Homo sapiens: one gene and its partner. The protein of the gene in region 2 purifies or fractionates together with the protein of the main gene of each other region. This does not show direct contact. Each region holds a gene or a part of one and is shown on either strand. Other genes may lie near its edges.

Region 1 (3,922 bases), on a different chromosome or scaffold from region 2:
TTCAAAATTATTGTTATGAAGACACTTCATGAATTTCTCTTTAAAGCTTTTACATTCACCTAGAACGAGAAAGAAAACAGCATGTTCTTTTCAGAGTGAAAAGTGATGCAACCACACAACAGCCTTAAGAGCTGCGCTGCTTTTCCTTTCAAAACTTGTTTCCTCAGGCCGGGCGCAGTGGTTCACACCTGTAATCCCAGCACTCTGAGAGGATCACCTGACCCCAGGAGTTTGAGACCAGCCTGGGCAACACAGTGAGACCCCCATCTCTACCAAAAAAAACCTTAAAAGTTAGCTAGGTGTGGCGCACGTCTGTGGTTCCAGCTACTCAGGAGGCTGAGGCAGGAAGATCGCTTGAGCAAAGGATTTCGAGGCTGCAGTGAGCTTGATCACACCACTGCACTCCAGCCTGGGCAACAGATCAAGACCTTGTCTCCTAAAAATAATCCAGGCTGGGCACGGTGGCTCACGCCTGTAATCCTAGCACTTTGGGAGGCAGAGGTGGGCGGATCACCTGAGGTCAGGAGTTCAAGACCAGCTCGGCCAACTTGGTGAAACCCCATCTCTATTAAAAATACAAAAATTAGCCGGGCATGGTGGCGGGTGTCTGTAGTCCCAGCTACTCGGGAGGCTGAGGCAGGAGAATTGCTTGAACCCAGGAAGCGGAGGTTGCAGCGAGTCGAGATCACACCACTGCACTCCAGCCTGGGTGACAGAGTGAGACTCCATTTCAAAAATAAATAAATAAATGATCCAGCCTGGTCAACATGGGGAAACTCCATCTTTAAAATAAAAAATAAAAAAACAATAATAATTAGCTGGGTGTGGTGTTGCACACCTATAGTCCCAGCTACTCTAGAGGCTGAGACAGGAGAATCGCTTGAACCCGGGAGGAGGAGGTTGCAGTGAGTCGAGATCACACCACTGCACTCCAGCCTGGGCGACACAGTGAGAGTCCATTTCAAAAATAAATAAATAAATAATCCAGCCTGGGCAACATGGGGAAACCCCATCTCTAAAAAAAAAAAAAAAAAAAAAATTAGCTGGGTGTGGCGCTGCACACCTATAGTCCCAGCTACTCTAGAGGATGAGACGGGAGACTCCCCTGAGTCCAGAAAGGAAGGAGGCCGAGGCTTCAGTGAGCTATGATTGCACCACTGCACTCCAGCCTAAGCAACAGAGTGAGACCGTGTCTCAAAACAAAAACAATCAAACCCAAACTTGTTTCCTTCATAAACATGCTGAAAACAACAATGGAAAAAACCCACAACGAGGTAAAGTCAGCCCAGTACGAGGTTAAGGTGCAATGTAGGTGATGGTCACAGGAGAGTTCAGGGTAAAAATTCTTTCATTTTTGCTATTTGAAAATGTCACAATAAAATGTTGGGAAAGAAACAGTAATTCACAGATCGTTTTTCTTTTCTTTTCTTTCTTTTTTTTTTTGAGACGTTGTCTCACTCTGTCGCCCAAGCTGCAGTGCAGTGGCCCGATCTCGGCTCACTGCAACCTCCGTCTCCCGGTTCAAGCGATTCTCCTGCCTCAGCCTCCCGAGTAGCTGGGACTACAGGCGAGCCACATCACACCCAACTAATTTTTGTATTTTTAGTAGAGACGGGGTTTCCCCATGTTGGGCAGGCTGGTCTCGAACTCCTGATCTTAAATGATCCGCCCACCTCGGCCTCCCAAAGGGCTGGGATCACAGGCATGAGCCACCGCGCCCGGCCCACAGATCCTTTTTCGAAGCCTTCATGTCCACGGAGGCAACCCCACCGGAATACGGCCAGAAGCACTGGGAGATCAGCAGCACTTTTGAGCTTTGCAGCAGACATCGCTAGGCACCGTCTAAGCCTCGGCTGCAGCTGCGGGCTTCGTGGCCGCCGAATGCCCCGCTCTGCAAACCCGGGGCACAGACAGCCCGCCGGGTGAGTCAGGGCGGAGCCGGAGACCCGGAAGCCTGACGCAAGGAGTCGGTGTCGCTGCCCTCGTCACGGGGGCCACGGTCCTGCCAGCTCCCACCTGCAGGGTCCATGCCGCAGCAGTGACCCAGGGCTGGGTGGGGCGGAGGGGCGGGCCGCCGTGCCTCAGTTTCCCCGCCTGCACCGCGCTAGATGCCGGCACCCCATAGGGCTCCGCGCTGGGCCGCGACCCAGACCCCCCATCGCAGACCCCTGCCCGCCGACCTTCCGCCGCTCACCTAAGTGATCCAGCGGGAAGCTGCCCTTGTCCGGGGGCCGCGGCTGGAAGCTCTTGGTCCCGAAATTCATGGCGGTCGACATGTTGGCGACTCCGGAGTCTGCGAGCGCCTTGCGAGCGTACGCAGGGCGGCCGGCGGAGCGCCGAGCAGGCACCCCGGGAGCGCCGAGCACGTCGAGCAGGCCCCGTCCCCGCCCCTTGCCCAGGCCCGGCCCCACCCCTTGCCCAGGCCCGGCCCCACCCCCTCGGAGTCAGCAAGCTCCTGAGCCCCGGTGGGCGCTGCCCGGGCTTTCCCGTCCCCTGGGACCCTCACAGCAGTCGGTAGCAGAATCAGCTTTTGGAATTGGTGAGAAACCGAGGCCCAGAAAGGTTCAGCGAATTGCCCGAGGACACATAGCGGTGCCGGCGTCTCTGCATCCCAGGTGTCTGCTGGGGCCTCGGTTTCCCCATCGCACAGAGACCTCATCACGGGGCCCATCCGGGGAGGAAGGCGGCACAGGAGGGACAGGAGAGCCTGTGGACTCGCTGCCTGCGGCTGCTGGAGCCAGGTGACACCACCGAGCAGCTTCAACAACAGGAATGTGCTCTCAGTCCTGGGGTCTGGAGTCCAAGCAGTGGGCAGAGTGGGGGCCCTGGGGACAGTCCCAGCCTCCCAGCTTCTGGGGGCCGCCAGCCTGTGAGGTTCCTTGGCTTGCAGAAGCACCACCTGGTCTCGGCCCCTACGTTCCCATGGTGTCCTGCGCATGTCCAAATTTACTATTTTTATTTATTTATTTGAGACAGGGTATTGCTCTGTTGCCCAGACTAGAGTGCAGTGGCATGATCACGACTCACTGCAGCCTCGACCTCCTGGGCTCAGCGATCCTCTCACCCCAGCCTCCTGAGTAGCTGCGACCACAGGCACACACCACCACACCAGGCTAATTTTTCTATTTTTCGTAGAGATGGAGTCTCCCTATGTTGCCCAGGCTGGTCCTTAACTCCTGGGCTCAGGCAATCCTCCTGCCTCAGCCTCCCTAAATGCCGGGATTATAGGCATGAGCCACCATGCCCAACCTAAATTTCCTCTTTTTATAAGGATAGCAGTCATGTTGGGTTAGGGGCCGTCCCAATAACTTCATCTTAACTAATTATATCAGCAGCAACCCTATTTCTTTGTTTTGTTTTTTAAAACGGAGTCTCTCTCTTGTTGCCCAGGCTGGAGTACAGTGGCTCGATCCTGGCTCATTGCAACCTCCACCTCCCAGGTTAAAGCAATTCTCCTGCCTCAGCCTCCCGAGTAGCTGGGATTACAGGCGCCACCAACACACCCAGCTAAGCTAATATATTTTTTTTCAACACAGAGTCTCACTTTGTAACCTAGACGGGCGTGCAGTGGTACGATCTCGGCTCACCGCAACCTCCACTTCCCGAGTTCAAGAGATTCTCCTGCCTCAGCCTCCAGAGTAGCTGGGATTACAGGCATGCGCCACCACACCCGGCTAATTTTTTGTACTTTTCGTAGAGACGGGGTTTCACCATGTTGCCCAGGCTGGTCTCGAACTCCTGACCTTAAGTGATCCGCCCACTTCAGCCTCCCAAAGGGCTGGGATGACAGGCGTGAGCCGCCGCACCTGGCACCTATTTCCAAAGCAAAGGTCACATCCTAAGGTCCTAGTGGCTTCACCATACGAATGGGGGTGGAGGGTAGTTACAGCTCAACCTAGGGCAGAATGAAAGTGTACTGTAA
Region 2 (3,188 bases):
AAAGCTGAACTTGTTCTCTCAAGTTTAAGTGAAAAAAATTAGTTGAGAAAAAATAATTATTTAAAATATAAGCCTTCATATTATTGTACAATATTTCTCCTTTGAGAAGATAGGATATATGATTTTCCCAAAAATCACAACTTTGAAGGAAGACTTAGTTGCTGACTTCAATTATATCCTGGAACTGGCAACTTGTGCCCTTCCTTTGCTTCAAAAAAAGTGTAAGAAAGAGTGATAAGATCAACTTTAATCATTCTTGGATCTTCAGCAAATTCAGGATCAATGTAGAAAAACACTGGCATATCTACTTCCTCTTGGGGATTAAGCCTTTGTTCTTCAAAACAGAAGCACTGGAAATTATAGAAAGATTTTAATAACATTTCTATTCTCGTATTACATAACAGAAACTATACAGTTCTTTTATCTTAGCATTCCAGTACACTTCGTGATTTTAATAAGCATACTATTAAATACACAGTTCTGTGATAAATTAAGAGCATCTTTTCATCTCAATGAGTTCTGCTTTAAGGATGAAGAACAAATTCTAATCTTAAAAGCAGATATCCATTTGGTTTGGTTCTCAATCTCTGCATAGCAGGTATAGATAGTGAAGAAAAATAGCTTGATGTTTAGAAGAAATTCGTTTTCAGAAATCACAAGATCTACTAAAACACTAAGTTTCATACTAAACCGTTTCATGTATCTTTATCATATTCTGTAAAGTTTACACTTTGATGTACCTGTATTTTATTGAAATACTGTCCAGCTTCAAATGGAACAATATTGTATGTAGAAATTCCAATTACTGGTTTGTCAGTAGGATTCTTAGCTCTGTAAAACGCCAGTGCAGTCTCTCCTGGCACCACCTGTTTTAAAGAATATATATATTATCAATACTTTGAATCTCACAAAGTTCCTCTTTTCCCTGCTAAATTAGTCTCATTATTTTGCCTATTCATCAGACCATAATACCTAATCTAATGTAGGGTTCAGCAAAATAAATTGTGAATATTACCCATAAACATATCTGAGTTTAAAAACTTACTTGCATATGTCAATGAAGAACCAATGTTCTAATATCCATAATTAGTTATGAACTGTCCTCTTGTATATTTGAGGTCTTCAAGGAATAATCGGCAAATTACATTATTTAAAATGTGTCCAAGCCAATCATATCACAGCCCTAGCCCAACTTTTCTGTAACACTTATACCTGAATGTCATGATTGACTATTTTTTTTAAAAAGATACCAACATTAAACTTACCTTAAAATCAGAATAAAACTGACTGACTAGAACCTTTATTATGCCACAAAGTGTTAATACTTTGGAGAAAATAAGGGAATAGCGAGGCTTAAAAAAATTTTCCAAAGGATATTCTGTCACTTGTACCAATTCAGCCACTAATACCTTTGTATACTACCACGTAATTGGAGAAGATTCATAATCATAACCTATAAAATCTTTATTAAGAGATTCAGTCATGTTTACTAAACTGGGCAAGCACTAATATTTATAAGGCTTTTCCAATATGGGTTGAAATTAACTCACTCTGGCTAATCCTCAATTAATGAGATTTCAGTTAAAATCTTTCTTACAGTTGGTTAAAATTTTAGGAAAGCGTTTAGGTATAGTCTCAGTCTCACTGGAGTATAACATAACTATTTACTACTTATTGATTATTTCAAAGGCCCTCAATTTGTTTTCTTTTAGAAGGACAGGGATACTTTTGATATAAACCAGTAAACTACTCATTGTAACCAATGCTTTTCCACATTTTTCCCATGTCTTCTATGCCTGAGGAAAAGTCAGGAAGCTATATAGCCTGACGGTTACTGCTACTCCCAACTGTTTCACTCATCTAAACTTAATTTCAAAATACTGACGGGTTCCATTACTATAAATTTTTTTATTCCCATAGACTACTTTTTAATAGTGCTTTACACCTAATGTAACAGAATTTATACTTTAACTTTTAAGTTACATGATAGTAAAAGTCAATTTGGAACAATGGAAAATGCCATGTTTTATTAGAATCATAGTGTTAAAATTAGTCCTCTGACAGTTTAAGTGATGAAAGAAAGGAATTTACATTAATAAAGTAATCTTTTAATGACTGGTTAGTCACTTACATATATTTCTGTTTGCTGAGGTCTAAAGTTCCACTGGAGACTTGCATGCACATCTGCATTAAAGCTAATTTTAATGATTCGATCTTTAACAGGCACCATGTTTTCAATCTTGTCTGAGGCATGACCTGCAACTGCTGATCCTCCAAGTCCAGTAGTCTAGAAAAAGATACCAAATATGTTAAACAATACTTTTAGGTGTTGATGATCTATTTATTTGATAAAAGTTTAAAAACAATGTAGTATTTATAATCCATTTGGAGCCAAGTTTACATATGGTAACTGACCATTGCTGTAACTGTGTCAAGAATCTGACTACTTTTGGGATGTCATGAGCCTGTATTTGTTAAAGTCATTCCTATTTTTCAGCAATCCCTTGGTTACCTGGCATGGTCAAAAATGAGTCTGGGAAAAGCAGGTTCACTAGATAAGTCAACTATTATCACTGATAGTCGAACTCACAATTTCCAGCTTAGCCATTTATAAAAAACACATTTCCCTTTATTGCTAGTATTTCATTAATAGAAATAAAATTTACCCATGACCTTGTAATTCCACTGAAAATACTTAACTCAATTTTTCCATATTCCTGTCTGGTCCTTTTCCATATCACAGCTTTTATAATCCAAATAAGATTGTAGCTTCACTTTTATTAACATTCTGCTTTTCTAAGGTATCACAGGTATTTTCCCACGTTGGTTAATGGTTTTGAATCTTTTCTGTACTTCTCTGTATAGTAGAGCTTTTATATAAATCACTAATCAGAGCACCTAATCCCTATGGCCACAGAAATAATCATAGGGCATCAAGAGTATTTATGTCTGACATTTCTTTTATTCATGACAGTTATTTCCTTGACATCACTTTTAAAAAAAGCCCTTACCCAGCACTTTGGGAAGCCACGGGGGGCGGATCATGAGGTCAGGAGATGGAGACCATCCTGGCTAACACAGTGAACCCCCGTCTCTATTAAAAATAGAAAAAAATTAGCCGGGTGTGGTGACACGCGCCTGTAGTCCCAGGTCTACTCGGGAGGCTGAGGCAGAAGAATTGCTTGAAC

The links.
Region 1: the proteins of COX11 (region 2) and COX19 purify together in Homo sapiens (affinity purification with mass spectrometry; one large-scale study listed by BioGRID and IntAct). This does not show direct contact.

Annotation. Positions count from the first base shown.
Region 1 is NC_000007.14:973,234-977,155, forward strand, and holds the start of COX19 (cytochrome c oxidase assembly protein COX19), read right to left. Parts: upstream 2,317-3,922; 5' UTR 2,277-2,316; coding exon 2,195-2,276; intron 60-2,194; coding exon 1-59. UniProt on the Homo sapiens protein: Required for the transduction of an SCO1-dependent redox signal from the mitochondrion to ATP7A to regulate cellular copper homeostasis. May be required for the assembly of mitochondrial cytochrome c oxidase.
Region 2 is NC_000017.11:54,962,566-54,965,753, forward strand, and holds part of COX11 (cytochrome c oxidase assembly protein COX11, mitochondrial), read right to left. Parts: intron 2,288-3,188; coding exon 2,132-2,287; intron 867-2,131; coding exon 741-866; coding exon of another isoform or gene 696-740; exon of another isoform or gene 356-695; intron 351-355; coding exon 168-350; 3' UTR 1-167. UniProt on the Homo sapiens protein: Exerts its effect at some terminal stage of cytochrome c oxidase synthesis, probably by being involved in the insertion of the copper B into subunit I.